Linked DNA regions of Homo sapiens: all the other regions are linked to region 2. Evidence: fine-mapped expression QTL. A gene starts in region 2. Each other region holds a variant in brackets. All regions are shown on one strand. Distances are from middle to middle.

Region 1 (7,413 bases), 41 kb before region 2:
GGGATTGATGGTCATTTCCCCCTGAAGGTTAAGGAATCCTTATAGACACAGAGGAGAAAGTTGGCTGGAAGTGAGTCACTGGGAGACTGAATCTTAGACTCAAATTCCTTTTGCATTTCAAAGCTAAATAGTGTCAAGTCCAATGTCCCTTTTCTTTACAGTATATACAAGTGTCTCTATCAACATTAGGTTTTGAGGTTGAGTGCAGTGGCCCACACCTGTAATCCCAGCACTTTTGAGAGGTGGAGGATCGTTCAACCCCAGGAGTTCAAGACCAGCCTCGGCAACATAGTGAGACCCCATCTCTATAACAAATAAAAAACATGCCCGGGCACGGTGGTTCATGCCTGTAATCCCAGCACTTTGGGAGGCCGAGGTGGGCAGATCACTTGAGGTCAGGAGTTCGAGACCAGCCTGGCCAACATGGCAAAACCCCTTCTCTACTAAAAATACAAAAATTAGCTGGGCGTGGTGGCATGTGCCTGTAGTCTTAGCTACTTGGGAGGCTGAGGTGGGAAGATCACTTGAGCCCAGGAGGTTGAGGCTGCAGTGAGCTGTGATCATGCCACTGCACTTTGGCCTGGGCAACAGAGCAAGATTCCATCTCAAAAAATAATAAAATAATAAAAAAATTAAAAACTACATAAAAAACAAAAAATTAGCGAGGTGTGGTGGCTCATGCCTGTAGTCCCAGCTACTCAAGAGGCTGAGGGGGAGGATGGCTTGAACCCTGTAGTTTGAGGCTGCAGTGAGCTACGATCATACCACTGCACAGAAGCCTGGGTGATAGAGCAAGACCCTGTCTCTAACAAACAAAATTAGGTTTTGTGATTCCAGTGGTCCTGATAGGATAAACTTTTTGTCTCTAATGATTTAAGTTATAGGGCCCTAAGTTTTCATTGTATGGATTTGATTTTTTTTTTTTTTTTTGAGACAGAGTTTCGCTCTTGTTGCCCAGGCTGGAGTGCAGTGGCACGATCTCAGCTCACCGCAACCTCCGCCTCCCAGATTCAAGCGATTCTCCTGCCTCAACCTCCCGAGTAGCTGGGATTACAGGCATGTGCCACCATGCCCGGCTAATTTTGTATTTTTAGTAGAGACGGGGTTTCTCCATGTTGATCAGGCTGGTCTCAAACTCCTGACCTCAGATGATCCACCCACCTCAGCACTCAAAGTGCTGAGATTACAGGCGTGAGCCACTGCGCCCGGCCTTGATTTTATCTTTCATGGCATCCTCATGATATACACTATCTCCTGGAATTCTATAATTGAGGAATGTTTTTGAATCACGTCTCTCATTTCTGGTCTCTGGATATTAACTAGTGGCCAAGACAGAAGCAGATCAGGGGTGATAGTCTTTTCCATACATTTTCTAGCCTGGGTCTGTCACGGGAGATGGATTCATCTCTATGTTGCCTACACTTCTGGACCTTAGACTAAACAGAGGGATAGGCACTGGGGATGGAGTCTAAGAGCCTTTCCCCAATAGTCTTAGCAACTATGCCTCAGAGGTATACTGCTCCTTTGGATACCTTCATTTACTGAGGCTCGTTTAGCATTTTCAAATCAAAGAGCTGCATTTTGGCCAGGCGCAGTGGCTCATGCATGTAATCCCAGCACTTTGGGAGGCCTAGGCAGGCAGATCGCTTGAGCCCAGGAGTTTGAGACCAGCCTGGGCAACATGGTAAAACCTCTGCAAAAAATCCAAAAAATTAGCTGGGCATGGTGGCATGTGCCTGTAGTTCTAGCTACTCAGGAGGCTGAGGTGGGAGGATCACTTGAGCCCAGAAGGTCAAGGCTGCAGTGAGCTGTGTTCATGCCACTGCACTCCAGCCTGGGAAACAGAGACCCTGCCTCAGGAAAAAAAAAAAAAGCTGCAGCTCTGGAACCATCAGATGGACAAGGTGATACAAATCAAATTGGAAAATCCCAGAGTAAGCTCCCAGTATTAGCCTAAATTGGCTACTAAATTCTTTCCTGTTTTCCTGGGTTTTTTAAGGCTGTGTTGCCCAAACTGGACTCGAACTCCTGGACTCCAGCGATCCTCCCACCTCAGCCGCTTAAGTAGCTGGGAATACAGTCACCCGCCACCATGCCCAGCTTTCAGATAGGTCTTTGCAGCACGTAAGTCAGAGCGTTCTGAAAGTCTGAAGAAAACTTGTTCAGGTCCATGCTCGGATCGTTCACCTTCAGCTGTGGAAGGTGGAGGACCATGTGTTAGGGTGTTACTGGAGAACTGGGGAGGTGGAGGGCTGGAGTCAAAGGTAGAGAGAGGTGGATACGTGTTCCCTCCAGTTCATTCCCTCTGCCTTCAGTCTTTCAAGGCCAAGATGAAGCCTAAGAGGTCACCTCTGATTCCCCACTCTCTCTGACCCCTGAGCTCATTCTAGGCTGCCCAAGCCTCCCAAACTCCCCCAGTCCAGCCCTTCCCGTTCTGGGTCATCACTGTCCAGGGGCAGGTATGTCTCTCTACTGGCAGGGCAGTCCTTGGCTGTCTCAGTCACCACTGTGTCCCCAGCATCACCCAGCTCAGTGACACAAAGGAATGAGTGAATATATACTTCTCTATTTCATAGATAGAGAAGTCATCACATCAACATAAAATAAAATACT[G/A]AATGTTACGTATCAGTTTTCTAGTATGGATCAGACTTGGGCTAACTGCATTTTATTATTTGACTTTTGAGACAGGGTCTCACTCTCTTGCCCAGGCTAGAGTGCAGTGGTGTGTGATCTTGGCTCACTGCAATCTCTGCTTCCTGGGCTCAAGCGATCCTCTAGCCTCAACCTCCAAGTAGCTGGGACCACAGGTGCAAGCCACCACACTTGGCTAATTTTTGAACTTTTTGTAGAAAGGGAGTTTCACCACGTTGGCCAGGCTGCTCTCAAACTCCTGAGATCTAAGGGATCTGCCTGCCTCGGCCTCCCAAATTGCTGGGATTATAGGCATGAGCCACCACACCCAGCCTGAATTAATAGTTGTGATTAGTAGTAACACCACCACCAAATAAAAAATCAGTCATCACAAACCATGAGATTACTTTTTCTCCAAGTTCTCTACCCTCCAGTCACATTCCTTCCATCTCTCCCCAGTTTCCAACTCCTCCTCCATTACTCCTCCCTCTCCCTTCTCATCTTCTCTCCTGGCACTCTTCCTGTATATTTTCTACCCCAGCTCGTCCTCCTTCCAAGACTCCTCTCCCATCAGTCCTCTCTCCCCACCCCTTCCATCCTTCCTCTTTTCAGGCAGTCCTCCTTCCAGATGAACTCCATGTTGGTACAACAGAGTAATGATTCGAGAGTGCCGTGTGCTGAGATCAAGGCCATGGGGCCAGAGATGAGTCCGTTTTAATTGCTGGGGAAACAGGGAGGGGCCTTGGAAATAGCTCCCCCCACCCCACTCCCCACGTGTCCCATCCAGTTTGGGCAGGAAGCCACTTTCCCTAGAACAGTTCATTGCTGGGATCCTGTGAAGAACCGCTGTGGAGGGCAGCAGCTGGACGAGGGCACAGGACCTCAGAGAACACTGATGCGCTCCGCCAGCCCCTGCATGTCGTGGTCCTGTGGTGGACAGGCCCCACCGAGATCCCTGTCCGTGGGCAGCCCAGACCCAGGCAGCGGATGCTCTGCTGCAAACTGCTCCCAGCGCGCGTCGTCACTCTCATGCGTGATGTATCGCTCTCCCATCTTCCCCTCCAGCTCTCGGAGGTCCAGCCACGTCTGGTACTCCTGGGCCCGAGAGAACTGGGGTTAGCTTGGGGTCTGCATTGGAGCAGTGCCTGGATATCCTCTGGTTTGCCACTGAGAGCTGGGTACCAATGAAGGTGAAGCCATACCCTCTGCAACCCACCCAGCCAGTAGACATTTAGCTCCACCCCCTCTTCCTGCACCCAGCCAATGGGAGGCCTAGCCACATTCCAGACCCAAGGAAACCTACATCCTTCACAACCTGCCTAGCCAATAAGCGATCTACTCCCACCCCTTCCTCCAATCCAGCCAATGGGCCAGCCCTGCCCCCTGCATCACCTGTAACCAGGGGTGGCTGAGAGATTTGTCCACGCTGTAGCGTTTGCGCATCTTCACCTGCAGCAGGTTGTTGATGAGGTCAATGGCTGCACAGGAAAGAGAAACAGGTCAAGCCCTACAGGTCAAGGGTCACTCCTCCTCCAATAGGCACCCCCTAGCCTACCTGCCTGCCATCAACACCTTCCTTCTGCACCAGCTCAGGTGGCTCAGAAGCCTCACCTGTGCCAATCACTCACCCACCCATTTCCTCATTACATTACAAATTTGTCTCCTCCTGCCCATGCATGTTCACACCAGCTCCCTCTCTTCACCTGTTCTCTACTTCAATTTCCCCATTCCCCTATGTCACCTTTTTTTTTCTTTTTGTCATATACAGGTACATACAATTACACCTGTACTATTCTTTTTATTTTTACTTATTTATTTATTGAGACAGAGTCTCGCTCTGTCGCCCAGGCTGGAGTGCAATGGCACGATCTTGGCTCACTGCAACCTCCGCCTCCCGGGTTCATGTGATTCTCCTGCCTCAGCCTCCCAAGTAGCTAGGAATACAGGTGTGTGTCACCATGTCCTGCTAACTTTTTGTATTTTTAGTAGAGATGGGGTTTCACCATATTGGCCAGGCTGGTCTCTAACTCCTGACCTCAAGCAATCCGCCTGCCTTGGCCTCCCAAATTGTTGGGATTACAGGCATGAGCCACTGCGCCCGGCCTAAATGGATTTTCAACCTACAATACTTCCTTTTTTTTTTTTGAGACAGGGTCTCATTGTTACCCAAGCTGAAGTGCAGTGGCGTGATCAATGCTCACTGAAGCCTCCACCTCCCCAGCTTAATTGATTCTCCTGCCTTAGCCTCCTGAGCAGCCAGCTGGGACTACAAGCACCTGTCACTATGGCCGGCTAATTTTTGTATTTTTTGTAGAGATACATTGCCCAGGCTGGTCTTGAACTCCTGGGCTCAAGCAATCTGCCTACCTTGGCCTCCCAAGGTGCTGGGATTATGGGCTTCAGCCACTGCGCCTGACCAACTTATGATATTTTCAATTTACAATGGGCAATGGGTTTATCAGGTTTATCTAACCCCAGTGCAAATCAGGGAGCATCTATGTCATCAGGCTGGGCGCGGTGGCTCATGCCTGTAATCCCAACACTTTGGGAGGCCGAGGCGGGTGGATCACCCGAGGTCAGGAGTTCGAGACAAGCCTGGCCAACACGGAAACCCCGTCTCTACTAAAAATACAAAAAATTAGCTGGGCATGGTAGCGCATGCCTGTAGTCCCAGCTACTCAGGAGGCTGAGGCAGAATCGCTTGAACTCAGGAGGCAGAGGTTGCAGTGAGCCAAGATCGTGCCACTGCACTCCAGCCCGGGTGACAAAAGCGAAACTCCGTCTCAAAACAAAACAAAACAAAACAAAATGTCATCAGATGGTAGTTAGTCACCATTGCCTGCAGAAGGCTCAGAGATAGGCCTGTTCATTGTGAAAAAGAGGACTAGCGAATGTCAAGCTTCAAGACAAGCCAGCACTCATCCGAGGCTCTCTCCTTGATGGGAAGCCATGAAGGACAAGGCTTCACTGTATGAACCCATCCGAGGAGAGGCCTGGTGCACACAGGCACCCTGCTCCCGTCAACACCCACAGGATTCTGTGATCCTCACACAGGTGCAACCACACTTAAATTCACTTGTGCACACTCGATGCACTTTTACTGAGGGACTTCTGAGTGGGTCTCAAAAGACAATGCTGGCGGGGTGTGATGGCTTATGCCTGCAATCCCAGCACTTTGGGAGGCTGAAGCGGGCAAATAACTTGAGGTCAGGAGTTCAAGACCAGCCTGGCTAACATGGCGAAACCCTGTCTCTACTAAAAATATAAAACATGAGCCAGGCATGGTGCTGTGTGCCTGTAATCCCAGTTACTCGGGAGGCTGAGGCAGGAGAATCCCTTGAACCCAAGAGGTGGAGGTTGCAGTGAGCCGAGATCACGCCACTGCACTCCAGCGTGGGTGAAAGAGCGAGACCCCACCTCAAAAAAAAAAAAAAAGCCAGTGTTGAGCACCCCCAATATTACTCCAGGACTCAAGTCAATCCACATTCTCACTGCTTAGGGCCCATGCTCTTAGACCACCACCAAGACCTTGTCTTGTCCTGCACCGAGCAACCTCCGTGTCACCCTGCTCCACCTGCTCCATGAAGCCGCACCCTCCAGAGAGGACCCTTCCCCTTTCCACCCTTCGCGGACCACTCAATGAGCTACCCTGCACCTGACCCCTTCTGTCCAAGTCATCACAGTATTCCCAGAGCTGGAACAGTCAATGCCTGGCACATCGTGGGCACTCAACATGTTGAATCAATGGTTACAAATACATGAATGTACTTGTTGAATAAATGGTTATAAATAAATGAATGAATGATCCCCCCCCTTCCCATACTCCATCTGTCTTCCTGAGCTCCCTGGCTCCAACACAGGTCCCTTGTTCTCCTGGCTTCTGACACACCCCAGTATCTTAGCCCTGCCTCTGGCCCTCTAAACATGCCATCCCACACCCAGCCTCAAAGCTCCAGGCCTTAGGACTTAACTTTTCCAAGCAGGGAAAGTTACAGACCCATTCCCAAGTAGGTTCAAGTCACCAGGCCCGGTGCCACTTCATCAGGCCCAGCCACAACACCAAAGCCCCAGAATGCAGAGTGCAATGTCTGCCTCAGTCCTGGCTCCCTTCTCCTCCCCACTCCCATCCACTCCCAGCTTCCAGGACTCAGGGTCAGCCCTGTTCCTGGACCTCTTCGGAAACCCTCCACGGCCACGTCCCTAGACTGGCTCCCTTGGTCACTGAACCGACCCCAGGCTTCAGGCCCATCTTCACCCAAGTCACGGCCCCAGTACACAGCAAAGTAGCCATGCCCTTGTTTCTCAACCCTACCCACCGGTGCCTCCTTTTTGCAAGGCTGACCCTTTTGGGGTCGTAAACCCAAAGGCTCCAGGTCCCAGCCAATGCCTTGGGAGGCTCAGCCCCTTCTCCTGGTCACCGCAGCCCTTTGGTACCCTCAAGTCCAGTCCCTTTCCTGGTCCCACCCTAGACAAGCCAAGTCTCACTCAGCCCCCCTAAGGTTCCAAGTGTCCTCAGCGCTTCTGGGGCACTTGGTTTCCAGCCCAAGTAACCTAGTCTAGGCCTGAGTCCCAGCCCATCTTTTACAGGACGGCTCCTCCTGTAGCCACATCCCTCCAGTAGGCCCGCCCCAGCACTGGGCTCCACCCCCAAGGTGCCAGGCTGTTTCCGGGTCCACCCCCCTCTCATGGCTCCGCCCACTTCTCCAGCCCCACCCCACAACCCACCCGCCCATGGGGTAGGCGGGCCCCAGGCACCTCCAGCTGAGATGTGGCTCCAGGGGC
Region 2 (7,003 bases):
TGAGGTGGGCAGATCACTTAAGATCAGCAGTTCGAGACCAGCCTGGCCAACAAGGTGAAATCCCGTCTCTACTAAAAATACAAAAATTAGCCACGTGTGGTAGCAGGCGCCTGTAATCCCAGCTACTCGGGAGGCTGAGGCAGGAGAATCGCTTGAACCCAGGAGGCAGAGGTTGCAGCAAGCTGAGTTTGCGCCACTGCACTCCAGCCTGGGTGACAGAGCGAGACTCCGTCTAAAAAAACAAAAAATAATAAAAATGACAAAAACAAAACAAAACTCAGGTTTAGGGGAGAGACAACAATGAAGATAAAAATTCAAGTGAGGCCAGCTTATGATATGAAAGAGTACTTAAAGCCTGAACAAGGTCACTAAAGGTGTAAATCCAGACTTCTGTCATTCATTCATTGAGCCGGTTTCACTGGGCACTGCAGTATGCCGGAGCAGCAGGGAAGGCAGCCATGAAAAAGGCAGCTGCCCCCACCCTCAAGAGGGACCAAGGGCCATAGACTGCTCTAAGGTGCTGAGAGCATGCCCATCTATACTACTGGAATAGTGAGTGGATGAACTGGCTTCTGGCTGTGTCTTAGAAAATCACCTGGGGGCTTTTAAAAATACTGATGTGCAGATTCCATCTCACTTTGCAGAGATTCTGATTTAATTTAGCATTTTCGTGGCAGGAGCCATGGACATCATAACTTTTTTTTTTCTTTTTCTACTTTTTTTCTTTTTTAGAGATAGGGTCTCTCTCTGTTGCCCAGGCTGGAGTGCAGTGACATGATCGTGGCTCACTGCAGCCTCAAACTCCTAAGCTCAAGAAATCCTCCCACCTCAGCCTCCCAAGTAGCTGAGACTACAGACGTGTGCCACCTCGCCCGGTTAACTTTTTTTTTTTTTTTTTTTTTTAAGAGATGGGGTCTCCTTATGTTGCCCAGGCTGGTCTCAAACTCCTGGGCTCCAGCGATCCTCCCACCTCAGCCTCCCAAACTGCTGGGATTACAGGTGTGAGCCACTGCAGCTGGCCCATTTTTTACCTTTATATTTAAGCATAACACAGTCAGTTACAGATCCAACTCCTTCTTCTCCTCTTTTCCCCCTTCTAACTACTGCACTTGACTAGTTTTATAAATAAATAAGTATAACATATGTTCAGGAAAGGCCGCACATCACAAGTGCACAGCTCAATGAATTTTCAAACTGTACAAAGCGTGTCACTAGCATCCTAATCCATAAATGAAAGTTTAGACCAGTCCCTAAAGAGCGCCTTCATGACCCCACTCTGTAACCATCTTCCAGAAGCCCCCAACTCTCCTTATTTTTTTTTTTCAGAGGGAGAGAAAGGGGTAGAGATGGAATCTCACTATGTTGCCCAGGCTGATCTCGAACTCCTGGGCTCAAGCGATCCCCCCAGCTCCAGCTCAGCCTCCCAAAGTGCTGGGATCACAGGCGTGAGCCACTACACCCGGCCTCTCCTGACTTCTAACTCCCCCTACCCTCTCCTCCCCCAGATGCCCCGCCCCCACCCGAGGCCCCGCCCCCAGGCCGGCCACCACCTCTCACCCGACAGCACCACCTCCACCAGGTCGCCCTCCTGGATGTCTCCGGACGAGCGCACCAGCTGCAGGAGGTTGGCCGACGTGGGGTCATGTTTGAAAAGCAGGATCTTGTCGTAAAGGCCGTAGAAGCCACACTCAGGGAACTGAGGGGCGGGAGAGGGATGTGGCGACGGAAAAGCTCAGAGCCGCCTTCAGCAGCGGGCGGACTGTGACCCTCCCAGGGCAGGGCCGGCTGTTTCCCCCGGAAACGCAGAGACCCCGCAGGCCCTCGCTTCCTGCCTGCCCCCTCCCAACCCCAGCGCGAGCCGGGCAGGATGCCAGCGCCCCAATTGTACGGGGAGGGGGCGCCGGCGTGGGTTTGGTGGCTGGAAGGGGGAGCTGGGGTGGGAGGGAGAGTGGCTCCGGGAGCGTGGACACCTCGAATTTTCCGGAACCTGGCGGAGGTGGGAGGGGATGCTGAATGAACACTCCCTCCCCTGTGCCTCCTCCCCAGGCTCACACACCCGCCCCCCAGCTTCCTTCCTGGATCTGTCTATTGTTGTCCCAGTTACCTGGCTCCAGGCCCAGCACTGGGGTGGGGCGAGCTGGAAGGAGGACTTTTCGGGGCTCCTGGGAAAGTGGGGGGGGGGGCCGGGGGACTTGGACTCGAGGGCGCTGGAGATAAGGAGGGCGCCTGCCACCCAATGCTCAAAGGACCCAGGTGTCTGGGTCCTCAGCTTTGGGGGCCTGGGGGCAGGAAATGAAACCTAGTAGAACAGAAAGTGAAACTGCCCCGGTGGGGCCTCGGGAAGGAAGGTAAGCGGCCCTAACACACCTGGACCTGGCAGAAAAATAAAACTGGGGTGAAGCCTGAGCGGGGCAGGCTGGGGACTTGAGCACTGGACAAAGAAGTTCACCCAAGGGACAATCTGCCCCCGTACCCCCACTGCCACCAGCTTCCCATGAAGTGGGCTGAGTTGGGGTGGTGAGCTGGGCCTGCGGGATTGAGGCATTTGGTGGGCAAAACCCTATCAGTTCTCACTGCTAAGAGAGAGTCCACAGAAGACCAGGACTGCCTTGGCCCTGACCCCTTGGGAAGTTTTTCTCTAAGCTTCAGTTTCCTTGTCTGTAGAATGGGGGAGCTGGCCCAGTTCCCCACGTTTCTCTGATGCCCAAAGGATTCATTTCCAGGAGTCTGAAAAGATTCTGGAATTTGGATATTTTGGGACTCCAACATGCTCACATTATAGAATTATACATTCTAGATTCCTACCTGGTATCACTATACATTTTAGGATTTCAATAACCTAAATAAGCGGTAATCTAATATTTTAATATTCTAGGAGTCTGACAAGCTAGGACTGTGCTCTTTGAATTCTTTAGCATTCAAGGACCTCATCCATCCAGCATTCTAAAATTCTAACATTTTAACTTTCTAGGATTCAACAATCTAGGAATCTAATATTCCAGCATTTTAATGTTTTACTATTTCACAAACCTAGAATTCTAATATTTGAACACGAACATGGGGGCAATTTAATTGCCTAGGATGCATATTCCAACAAGTTATGATTCTAATATTCTAACATTTCTACAGTCCAGTACTCCAACACAGAAGCCCACTATTCTTTTAACATTTCACGGTTTAGACGTGGAGTTCCACCTGGTTTCCTCTTGCCATAACACCCAGCTGCCCACCCTGGGGACCCTGGTGTCCAAAATTAAGAGTAGGCTAACAGCACTGTGACTAGGAAAGGGAATAGAGTCCCCAGGGTCTGTAGGAGTGCCTGCCCCTCCACACATATCTCAGGCTTAGGGGAGGGCAGAATTGGGCTCCGAGACCTCACTTGCCCCTGGCAGCTAACTCAAGCACCTGCACCCACACATGTCACCGGATCACCATGGCCAGCCCGGGTTCAATTTCTCCTGTTTCCACCAAATGGGAGGCCCGGGATGGGCCTGGACGTGGAGGTCCGCCGACATCTGCTGCCCCTTCCTCCCCTCTCTACACCTGGCTGGCCCCTCCCTTCCTCCCTGTTTGCTGCAGAAAACAACGACATGCAGGGACATGAAATTTGGGGAGGCCTCTGGGGCACCCCACCCCTGCCCAGTCCTCTCTCAAAGGGATGGTGGGGAGAGGGGCAATGGAGGGGGGCAATGCCCCCTATCCCTCCATCACCCAAAGCTCAGGTCTCCTTCCTCCCTCTTCCGCACACCAGGCCCCAGACCCCTCTGCCAGCGCCCCCTCCTTCAACCTCTCCCCGAGCTGGATCCAGGGAGCCTGCGCCCTCACCTTCTGGTCCACGATGGAACAGGCCAGCTGCTTCACATGAGCCAGCTCGGAGGCGGCGGGCAACAGCACGAACTCGCGGGTCAGCCCGATCTGGATGTGAAAGGAGACCCCGGAACCCGGGGCCGGGATCTGGGGCAGTAGCGGTGGCGGCGACTGCAGCTCTAGGCCGCCGGGGGGCGGAGGAGACCCCGGCCCGGGAGAGCCAGGGAGCCCGGCGGGATAAGAGGGGGCGGTGGCCATGGGGGGAGGCCGGGGACCGGCCGCCTGGAGCCCACCCGGGACCCGGCCGGGGGGCCCCGGGGGACCCTGGGTTCTAGATCCGCGGGATCTCGTGAGCAGGTGGTGGGAGAGCGGGGATCCGAGAAAAGATCTGGCAGGCGGAGGGGACCTGAGGATGGCGGGGTCCTGGGAAGGAGAGAAAGGCACTATAGTGGGTCAGAGGCCCGGAATCCAGGGCTCCCAGAAGATCAGAAAGGAGAAAAGTAGTGGGTTGGAGGTCCCAGCGATTGAGATTCCAAGAAGCCTGAGAGGAAATCTAGTAGGTCGGGGTCACAGGGATCAGGAGAGCCCGCGATTCAAAGGCCCCTTCCCTAGAGGAGGGATTGAGAAGGGGGCAGAGGGAATCCCAGGATCCAGTGCTCCAAGAAGAGGATCCCACTCAGAAGGCGGCCCGGGGGAATTCACCTTGGGGGTGGAGGGCAGGAGTCTCTGAGTCGGGGACCGAGTGGATTCCAGAGATAAAGGGGTTCGCAGGGACCCGACCGGCCAGGGGATGGGCAGAGGGGTCCCGAGGGCCGGAGTGGGTAGAAGGGAATCTCACGAGTCGCAGAAGTTGGAGAAAAGTTCGGTCGGGAGCCGTGAGGAAGGGGGCGTTGCCGGAGCGGGGTTGGGTGGGGGGCAGGGAGGGTCGCCAGGCGCCAGTAGCTCTTTTTCCCCCTCCAAAGTTTAAGTCGGCGGCGGCGGCGGCGGCCCAGGAGGAAGTGTCCGGAGCGACAGTGCAGTCGACCAATCGGCGCGGGCCTCGGCGACGTCAGAGAGGGGCGGAGCCTGCCGAGGGGCCGGGGGCGGAAGGGGAGGGTGGGCCCGGGGCCTCCGAGTTGGGGGCTGGACCTCCGCCTCCAGGGTCCGGGACAAGGGATGGTGTGAGGGATGGAGGGCAGGCAGGCGAGACCAGTTCCTTCCCTGAACACAGCCAAGCCTGGAAAGTTAACTTTTCCCTCGGCTGGACAGGGAGGGGAAACACTATCACCCACCGCCGGTCGCAGGCGTCGGGCTTGGAGGCCACTGGCCCTTTAAGGAGGGGAGCCCTCTCCGGCAGGCGTCCGGCGCCCATGGCAGGGGACGGGTGGGAAATCGGTATCAGGTCCCGGCCCGCTCTCTGGGTTCGGCCTCTCTGTTCTCCGAGCGTCACCCCTGCCCTCCCCGCCGCGTCCCAGCCCAGGGAAGGGGGTGCTGCAGAGCGTCCCCCGGCCCCAGCCCATTTAACACATGGAAAGACCGAGGCCTCCAGATGGGTAGGAAGGGGCTCGCCTTAGGTCTGTCTCCAGCGATGGTGGGCAAGGTGCATGGCGCTAACTGGATGGGTGGGGAGGGTCCATCCCCCCGCCCACCCCAACCCCGCCTTAGGATAGTGTGGGGCTGCCCCGAGGGAGGACAGCACACCCATACCACTTCATAGATGCAGAGTGTGTCTCCTGGGGATGTGGAGTACGTGTGCGTGTCTTTCTCTCCATGTGACTTTGGGTGAGTGGCTTCTCTGTGAGCCTCAGTCCCTCCATCTGTTGGGACTGTAATAGGACTGACCCCACATGGGATGGTGGGAGCCGATGCCATGGTATACTGGTGCCTGGAAACGCAGCAGTTCAGTAAGAGGTGGTTGTCTCTGATAATACGCGGAAAGGGGTGGCCACCTCCAGCACTCAGGCTTTGATGGGTGGGCACACCCATTCAGTCACCCAGCAAGTATCTGTGAGGACCTACTGGGTGCTGGGTGGGCCCTGCTGTAAAACTCCAGCCGCTACAGGGGTCAGGCTTGATCTCTCCTCCCCAGCTAATAATCAAATAGTGGCTACCATTTAGTTTACACAGAATAAGCTGAAGCCTCAGAGAAGCAAAACGTCTTGCCCAAGATCCCAGAGTGAAGTTGCTTGAGGGAAGCTGCCCCACCCACCCCTTTGATTGACAAGTCAAGGCCTAGGTTTGAGCTCTAAGAGAAGGGCCACCTGTCTGGCTGGGATGCTGGCAGGACTGGAAATGGCAGGGCTGGCTGAGGATGGGGGCTGCCAGAAGAGCCCCTCTTCCTGGTGTACGGCCGTTGGGGGTAGCTGAGGTCGGTACAGTATCGATTCTGTCACCACATCCGGGGGCTGGGGCTGAGGAAGGAAGTCTGAGGCTGGAGTGAAAACCCAAACCACCACCTGGGGAACTGCATTGAGCCCAGAGGGATGGGCAGGGAGCACACCACGTGGAGCCCACGAAGGCTCCCCTTGGCGTCATCTAAGGGCCTCCTGCCCACCTGCACCCTTTTTCCTGAAGGGCAGATGACTGTCCCAGCAAAACGCTGCCATGTCCTGAGTGTCCAGACAGCGGCCTCCATCCTTTCTCGTATGTTCACTGGGGCCTGCTGGGGGACTGGGGCACAGCCCTTTACAACCCAGGAACTGGGCATTAGTGCCCTGTGGCAGAGGTGCTAGGATTACCGAGGACGCCTGGCTGGTAGGTGGTGGAAGCCTCCTCGAGACAGGAGCAGCGGTCCCCTCCGTCTCATCTGGAGCATGTGGACACCTGCTCCCTCTTTTTAAGGCTGTGGACCCAGTGAAATGCCATGTAAAGCACTCAGTACAGTAGACGTGGACCACTGAGAAGGGAAAGGAGGGACGCATCAGGACATGAGCCACGAGGGCTCGGGCACCTGCGGCACCTCCTCCCAGCATGGAGGAGCCTGCGCCCCAAAGCCATCATCCTCCACTGGCAGGTGCAGCCTTTTCCCTCCCTGCTCCTTGTGGGCCTGGGATGGGAACAGGAAGGGGGTTTACGTCCTCTGGGCACCAGCCCTTTGGCCTCGCCACCACCCTCACACATCCCAGGCGGGGCTGAGGCTTCAGCTGGACTGTCATCATAGTATCTGCTCCCCAGGGCTCTACCCCTGGGGAGGGAGCACTTAGGGACAGAAAGGGCA
Region 3 (7,416 bases), 31 kb before region 2:
CTGTTATTCAGGCTGGAGTGCAGTGGCACAATCATAGCTCACTGCAGCCACCAACTCCTGGGCTCAAGCAATCCTCCCATCTCAGCCTCCTAAGCAGCTAGGACTATAGGCGCACGCCACCATTCCCGGCTATTTTTTTTTTCATTTTTTGTATAGATGAGGTCTCGCTATGTTGCCCAGGCTGGTCTCAAACTCTTGGGCTCAAATGATCCTCCTGCCTCAGCCTCTCAAAATGCTGATTACAGGCAAGAGCCACTGTGCCTCGCCCCCACATCTTGATTAGTATAATCCCCTTCCCCACCCCCACCCCGGCCATCAGTGTTGCCTGGATTTCCCCAAATCAGGAGGGGACATAACTGACCTGAGGAAATGGGTCTGCTGATGCCAGCAACACGTTTTCTGGTTTCAAGTCACAGTGGACAATGTTCTTGAAGTGAAGGTGTCTCAAAGCCACCAGGATCTGAGGGGAGCAGATGGGCCCAGTAAGAAAGGTAGATAGGTACTCAGCCAAATCCCAACCTCAGCAGCCAGCCCTCCAAACCCATCCATACTTTTTTTTTTTTTTTTTTGAGACAGAGTCTCGCTCTGTAGCCCAGGCTGGAAGTGCAGTGGCATGATCTCAGCTCACTGCAACCCCTACCTCCTGGGTTCAAGTGATTCTCCTGCCTCAGCCTCCCAAGTAGCTGGGACTACAGGCGTGCACCACCATGCCCAGCTAATTTTTTTTTTTCTTTTTGAGGCGGAGTCTCACTCTGTCGCCTGGGCTGGAGTGCAGTGGCACGATCTCGGCTCACTGCAACCTCTACCTCCAGGGCTCAAGTGAGTCTCCTGCCTCAGCCTCCCGAGTAGCTGGGATTACAGGCGCTGGCCACTATGCCCAGCTAATTTTTTCTATTTTTAGTAGAGATGGGGTTTCACCATGTTGGCCAGGCTGGTCTCAAACTCCTGACCTCGTGATTTCCCCACCTCGGCCTCCCAAAGTGCTGGGATTACAGGCGTGAGCCACCGGGCCCAGACTTGCTCTGATAATTTTTTCTTTTATTTTTAGTAGAGACAGGGTTTCACCATGTTGACCAGGCTGGTCTCAAACTCCTGGACTCAAGTGATCCACCCACCTTGGCCTCCCAAAATGCTGGGATTACAGGCGTGAGTGAGCCACTGCGCCTGGCCCCATCCATGCCTTCCTACACACCCCTGCAGACACCCCAGCCAGGGAAACAGGAGGCACTGGAGCACCAAAGAATCTCAGAATCATAGAACCATTTACATCTGAGAGATAAGAGTTAAATGTAAACTAGAAAGTCTGGGCTAGATGAGTGGGGCTGTGAAGATCCCAAGATCTTCTAGCATGTGGTAAACTCCTGAATGCTACTGACAGAGCAGGCATTTCCAAGATCCAACTATGTGATTCTATTTTTTTTTTTTTTTTTTTTTTGAGACAGAGTCTTGCTCTGTCACTCAGGCCAGAGCACAGAGGCGGGATCACAGCTCACTGCACCTCGACCTCCCAGGCTAAATCCATCCTCCCACCTCAACCTCCCTAGTAACTGGGATTATAGGCACACACCATCACACCTGACTAATTTTTGTATTTGTAGAGACAGTGTCTCACCATGTTGCCCAGGCTGGTCTCAAACTCCTGCACTCAAGTGATCCACCCACCTCAGCCTCCCAAAGTGCTTGGATAACAGGCGTGAGCCACCCCACCTCACCCATTTTTTTTTTGAAGAGATGGAGTCTCCCTCTGTCACCCAGGCTGAAGTGCAGTATCATTCTACAGCCTCAAACTCCTGGGGTTAAGTGATCCTCCAGCCTCAGTCTCCCAAATAGCTAGGACTACAGGCATGTGCCACCACCACCATGTCGGGCTTTGATTCCTTTTTTTTTTTTTTTTTTGAGAAGGCCTCCTGATTCTCCTGCCTCAGCCTCCTGAGCAGCTGGGATTACAGGCACACACCACCATGCCCGGCTAATTTTTGTATTTTTAGTAGAGACGGGGTTTCATCATGTTGGTCAGGCTGGTCTTGAACTCCTGACCTCGTGATCCACCAACCTTGGCCTCCCAAAGTGCTGGGATTATAGGCGTGAGCCACTGTGCCCAGCCTGATTTCATTTTTAAAAAAAATATTTTTCATCCTTACAAAAAACTTTGGCTGGGCATGGTGACTCATGCCTGTAATCTCAGCACTTTGGAAGGCTGAGGCAGGTGGATCACCTGAGGTCAGGAGTTAGACACCATCCTGGCCAACATAGCAAAACCCTGCCTCTATTAAAAATACAAAAATTAGGCGTGGTGGTGGGCGCCTGTAGTCCCAGCTACTCGGGAGGCTGAGGCAGGAAAATCGCTTGAACTGGAGAGGTGGAGGTTGCAGTGAGTCGACATCGCGCCATTGCACTCCAGCCTGGGCGACAGAGTGAGATGCCATCTCAGAAAAAAAAAGAGTACCAACCTTACAGGTTGCTATAAGGTTTAAAGCATATCTAAAGATGCATGTAAAACGCTTAGGATAGCTAACCACTGTATGTTAGCTGTTACTGTTGTTGTTATTAGTTATTATTTTTGTGATGGCTTGTTGGTAAATATATTTGTTTGTGTCTCTTAAATAAAGCTTCTCCTGCTGTATCTGTTCCTATGATAAGGTGAGCTGATTAAAAAAAAAATTACCATTTGTAACCATTCATCTGTGAGAATCATATTTCTTGATTCTCTGTAACTCAAAATGCCAAGTACACCAGAAGCAATTGTACAACTGCAATTATTATCTGTCTCGGAGTTTAAATACTTGTGTATCTGTCTCAGAGTTTAAATACTTGTGTTTATTCTGATTGTTTTCTTTTTTAAAAAAATCTTTTTGTAGAGATGGCATCTCGCTATGTTGCCCAGGCTGGTCTTAAACTCCTGGCCTCAAATGATCTTCCCACCTCAGCTACCCAAACCTTGAGATAATAGGCACGACCCACCATGCCTGACCAACCTCCTCATTCTACAGACTGGGAGACCAAGCTGGAAAGATGCATGTGTTGTATATGTCATCTCCAGATTGTTTTTTTGAGATGGAGTCTCACTCTGTTGCCCACGCTGGAGTGCAACGGCATGACCTCGACTCACCACAAATTCCACCTCCCAGGTTCAAGCAATTCTTGTGCCTCAGCCTCCCCAGTAGCTGGGATTACAGGTGAATGCCACCACACCTGGCTAATTTTTGTATTATTAGTAAAGATGGGATTTCACCATGTTGGCCAGGCTGGTCTCAAAACTCCTGACCTCAGGTGATCCATCTGCCTTGGCCTCCCAAAGTTCTAGGATGACAGGCGTGAGCCACCTCGCCCCGCCCATTTCCAGATTTTGTCAGTTGATTTTCTCCCAGTTCATGTGAACAAAGAGGGCAGGTTAGGCCGGGCACGGTGGCTTACGCCTGTAATCCCAGCACTTTGGGAGGCTGAGGCGGGCAGATCACGAGATCAAAAGTTCAAGACCAGCCTGATCGACATGGTGAAACCCCATCTCTACTAAAAATACAAAAATCAGCCAGGAATGGTGGCGTGTGCCTGTGTTCCCAGCTACTCAGGAGGCTGAGGCAGGAGAATCATTTGAACCTGGGAGGCAGAGGTTGCAGTGAGCTGAGATAGCGCCACTGCACTCCAGCCTGGGCAACAGAGCGAGACTCCATCTCAAAAAAAAAAAACATTGGCCGGATATGGTGGCTCACGCCTGTAATCCCAGCATTTTGGGAGGCTGAGGCGGGTGGATCACGAGGTCAGAAGTTCAAGACTAGCCTGGCCAACATAGTGAAACCCCGTCTCTACTAAAAATACAAAAATTAGCCCGGTGTACTGGGACGCACCTGTAGTCCCAGCTACTCAGGAGGCTGAGGTGGGACAATTGTTTGAACCTGGGAGGCAGAGGTTGCAGTGAGCTGAGACTGTACTATTGCACTCCAGCCTGGGTGACAGAGTGAGACTTCGTCT[CA/C]AAAAAAAAAAAAAAAAAAGAAAAGAAAGAGGGCAGGTTGGAAGCTAGATAGATCCAGACTCAAATCTTGGCTGGAAAGCTACTTGGCTGTGACCTCGAGGGAGACTGCTATCTCCCTGAGCCTCAGTTTCCTCATCTATAAAATGGGGTTTATAACAATACCTACCTCCTAGGATGGTGGTGAGGCCTACATAAGCTCAGGAGGTAAAGGGCTTAGCACAGGGCTTAGGTGTGGGGCAGGCAAGAGCCCAGAAAGCAGAAATCTGCAGAGAGAGAGAGAGAGAGAAAGAAGAGCGAGCAGGCAAAAAGAGAGGAAGAGATGAAGGCCAGAAAGAGAAACCCCCTCAGCTGCTGAAAGCAGCCACCTGTGAGAACCATGATTCCTTTCCACACCTGAAGTCTGGATGTGGCCGGGCACGATGGCTCATGCCTGTAATCCCAGCACTTCAGGAGGCTGAGGCAGGCAGATGACTTGAGGTCAGGAGTTTGAGACTGGCCTGGGCAACATGATGAAACCCCATCTCTACTAAAATTACAAAAATTAGCCAGGCATGGTGGCACACACCTATAATCCCAGCTACTCGGGAGGCTGAGGTAGGAGAATCACCTGAACCCAGGGGGCAGAGGGTGCAGTGAGCCGAGATCGTGTCACTGCGCTCCAGCCTGGGCAACAAAGCGAGACTCTGTCTCAAAAATACATAAATAATAAAGTCTGGATGAGGGTGCATCAGTGGGTTTCTGTCCCCACCCCATAAGCCAGCCTGACAAACACAGGCACACTGCCTGAGAGGATAAGGGTGCTGGGCCAGGGTAAAGGGAACACAGCAACGATGGCTCTGAGACCCACAGAGATGTCTCAGAAGAAGGCAAGGCACCCACCAGAAGGAAGCCTTTCTAGGAAGGATGTGAAACACAGAAACCACACAAGGGGATATTTAACATCGTAAAAGTTCCACTCTATGGCCGGCTGGACGCAGTGGCTCATGCCTGTAACCCAGAACTTTGGGAGGCTGCAGCAAGAGGACCACTTAAGCCCAGGAGTTCGAGACCCAACATGGCAAGACCCTGTCTCTACAAAAACATAAAAAAAAATTAGCCAGGTGTAATGGCTCATGCCTGTGGTTCCAGCTAACTCAGGAGACTGAGATGGGAGGATCGCTCGAGCCCAGGAGTTCAAGACCAGCCTGGGCAACATGGCGAGACCTTGTCTCTACAAAAACATTAAAAAAAAAAAAAAAAAAAATTAGCTGGACGTGGTGGCTCATGCCTGTGGTTCCAGTTAACTCAGGAGGCTGAGATAGGAGAATTGCTTCAGCCTAGGAGTTTGAGGCTGCAGTGAACTATGATTACACCACTGCACTCCAGCCTGGGTGACAAAATGAGACCCTGTCTCAAAAAAAAAAATAAAATAGGCCAGGCGCGGTGGCTCACACCTGTAATCCCAGCACTTTGGGAGGCCGAGGCGGGTGGATCACGAGGTCAGGAGATCGAGACCATCCTGGTTAACACAGTGAGACCCTGTCTCTACTGAAAATACAAAAAATTAGCCGGGCGTGGTGGTGGGCACCTGTAGTCCCAGCTACTTGGGAGGCTGAGGTAGGAGAATGGTGTGAACCTGGGAGGCGGAGCTTGCAGTGAGCCGAGATGGTGCCACTGCACTCCAGCCTGGGCAATAGAGCAAGACTCCGTCTCAAAAAAAAATAAAAAATAAAATAAATAAAACCCTATGGTAAATAAAAACTAAATATAAAATAAAGAGGCAAACACTGGGATAAAACCATTGAACAATATAAGTGATAAGAATCTAATGTGCACCTCCACCAAAAAAAAAGAAACGCAGAACAGAGGCCGGGCACAGTGGCTCACACCTGTAATCCCAGAACTTTGCGAGGCTGAGGCCGAGTCAGGAGGATCACTTGAGCCCAGGAGTTGAAGACCAGCCTGGGCAACATAGCAAGTCTTTATAAAAATGTCTTTATAAAAATTAGCTGGGTGTGATGGCTGATGCCTGTTGTCTCAGCTACTCAGGAGGCTGAGGCAGGAGAATTGCTTGAACCCGGGAGGTCAAGGCTGCAGTGAGCCATGATTGTACCACTGCACTCCAGCTCGGGTGACAGAGCGAGACCCTGTCTCAAAAAAACAAACAAAAAGCACAGGCACACAAGGAAAATCTGTTTGAATGTAACACAAATGAGTTTGACATCACTAGTTAAAAGCAAAGATCCTAGGTTCAAATCCCACCAGCTATGTGACCCTGGACAAGATATTTGATGTCTCTGACCCTCAGTTTCTTCAACCATAAAAGGGGATTGATAATAATAGCACCTACTGCACAGGTTACTATGAAGATTAAATGAGTTTGAAGAGTGCTTGGCACATAGTAAGTGCTCAATAAATGTTAGTGACCACATTATTTATCATCACCATTATCAGCCTCCCTTGTCCTAGCCCTGCTCACCTGAGCTATCACTGTCTAAGAATGGGGCTGTATTGGTCATCCCTGTGTCCTCAACACTGACCAGCAAGGGACCAAGCACAGAGCAGGGACTAGGGAGTGTTTGTTGACCAACTGAATGAATGAATGAGAGAAAAAGGGCTGCTTGCCCGTTTTTTCTATTGTTTGGTTTTGAGACACGGTCTCGCTCTGTCACCCAGGCTGGAGTGCAGTGGCACGGTCATAGCTCACTGCAGCCTCAACCACCTAGGTTCAAGAGAGCCTCTCCACTCCCTTCCTCCCAAGCAGCTAGGACTACAGACATGTGCTACCAGGCACCACATCCAGCTAGGTTTTCTATTTTTTTTTTTACTTTTTGTAGAGGTGGGATCTCACTATGTCGCCTAGGCTGGTCTCCAACTCCTGGCTTCAAGCGATCCTCTTGCCTTGGCCTCCCAAAGCGCTGGGATTACGGGCATGAGCCAGCCTGTTTTTGAGATGGGCTCTTGCTATGTTGCCCAGGCTGGCTCAAACTCCTGGGCTTAAGCAATCCTCTGGCCTTAGCTTCCTGAGTAGCTGGGATTACAGGTGTACCCCACCATGCCTGACTCCCCTTTTTTCTAGATGAGTCAAGTCAGGTCCAGGGAGCCTGACTGATCATTTATTTTTTATAATAAAAATAGCTATCATTACCGCTAGTCTATTTTTTTCTATTATTATGATTACTCTTTATTATTATTATTATTATTATTTTTTTTTTTGAGACGAAGTTTCACTCTTGTCCCCCAGGCTGGAGTACAATGGCACGATCTCAGCTCACTGTAACCTCTGCCTCCTGGGCTCAAGGGATTCTCCTGCCTCAGCCTCCCAAGTAGCTATGATTACAGGTGCCTGCCACCATGCTCAGCTAATTTTTGTATTTTTAGTAGAGACAGGGTTTCACCATGTTGGCCAGGCTGGTCTCAAACTCCTGACCTCAGGTGATCCACCCGCCTTGGCCTCCCAAAGTGTT

Which allele goes with the higher level. Alleles are on the strand shown, and positions count from the first base shown. SD is a standard deviation of normalised expression in the study named. Not every link is listed here.
With allele CA in place of C in region 3, the expression in prefrontal cortex of the gene that starts at base 4,809 in region 2 is higher (moderate effect, 0.73 SD a copy in BrainSeq).

What was found. PIP is the estimated chance that this variant, and not a neighbour inherited with it, causes the effect. A credible set is the group of variants that fine-mapping cannot tell apart.
Region 1: its variant is the best candidate, but not a certain one, in a credible set for the expression of PRKD2 in amygdala (GTEx, PIP 0.54).
Region 3: its variant is the best candidate, but not a certain one, in a credible set for the expression of PRKD2 in prefrontal cortex (BrainSeq, PIP 0.55).

What each region holds. Positions count from the first base shown.
Region 1 is chr19:46,671,010-46,678,422 of GRCh38, forward strand. PRKD2 (protein kinase D2) reads right to left here. Exons shown (of 18, transcript NM_016457.5): 16 at 7,387-7,413; 17 at 4,024-4,109; 18 at 3,307-3,726. The coding sequence ends at 3,514. It overlaps DACT3-AS1 (DACT3 antisense RNA 1), which reads left to right. Exons shown (of 3, transcript NR_040042.1): 3 at 6,131-6,447. Among named protein-coding and RNA genes, the nearest start is that of DACT3, 14 kb to the left of the region's middle. The variant G/A (reference allele first, on the strand shown) is at 2,614.
Region 2 is chr19:46,712,306-46,719,308 of GRCh38, forward strand. PRKD2 (protein kinase D2) reads right to left here and starts at 4,809. Exons shown (of 18, transcript NM_016457.5): 1 at 3,826-4,809; 2 at 1,558-1,696. The coding sequence starts at 4,065. LOC107987269 reads right to left here. Exons shown (of 4, transcript XM_017027568.2): 1 at 6,341-7,003; 2 at 6,048-6,197; 3 at 5,494-5,671; 4 at 4,229-4,872. The coding sequence starts at 6,758. The coding sequence ends at 4,506. RefSeq lists silencers at 1,824-2,053, 4,705-4,754, 4,775-4,934 and enhancers at 2,244-2,543, 6,055-6,104.
Region 3 is chr19:46,681,289-46,688,704 of GRCh38, forward strand. It overlaps PRKD2 (protein kinase D2), which reads right to left. Exons shown (of 18, transcript NM_016457.5): 15 at 362-460. Among named protein-coding and RNA genes, the nearest start is that of DACT3, 24 kb to the left of the region's middle. The variant CA/C (reference allele first, on the strand shown) is at 3,970.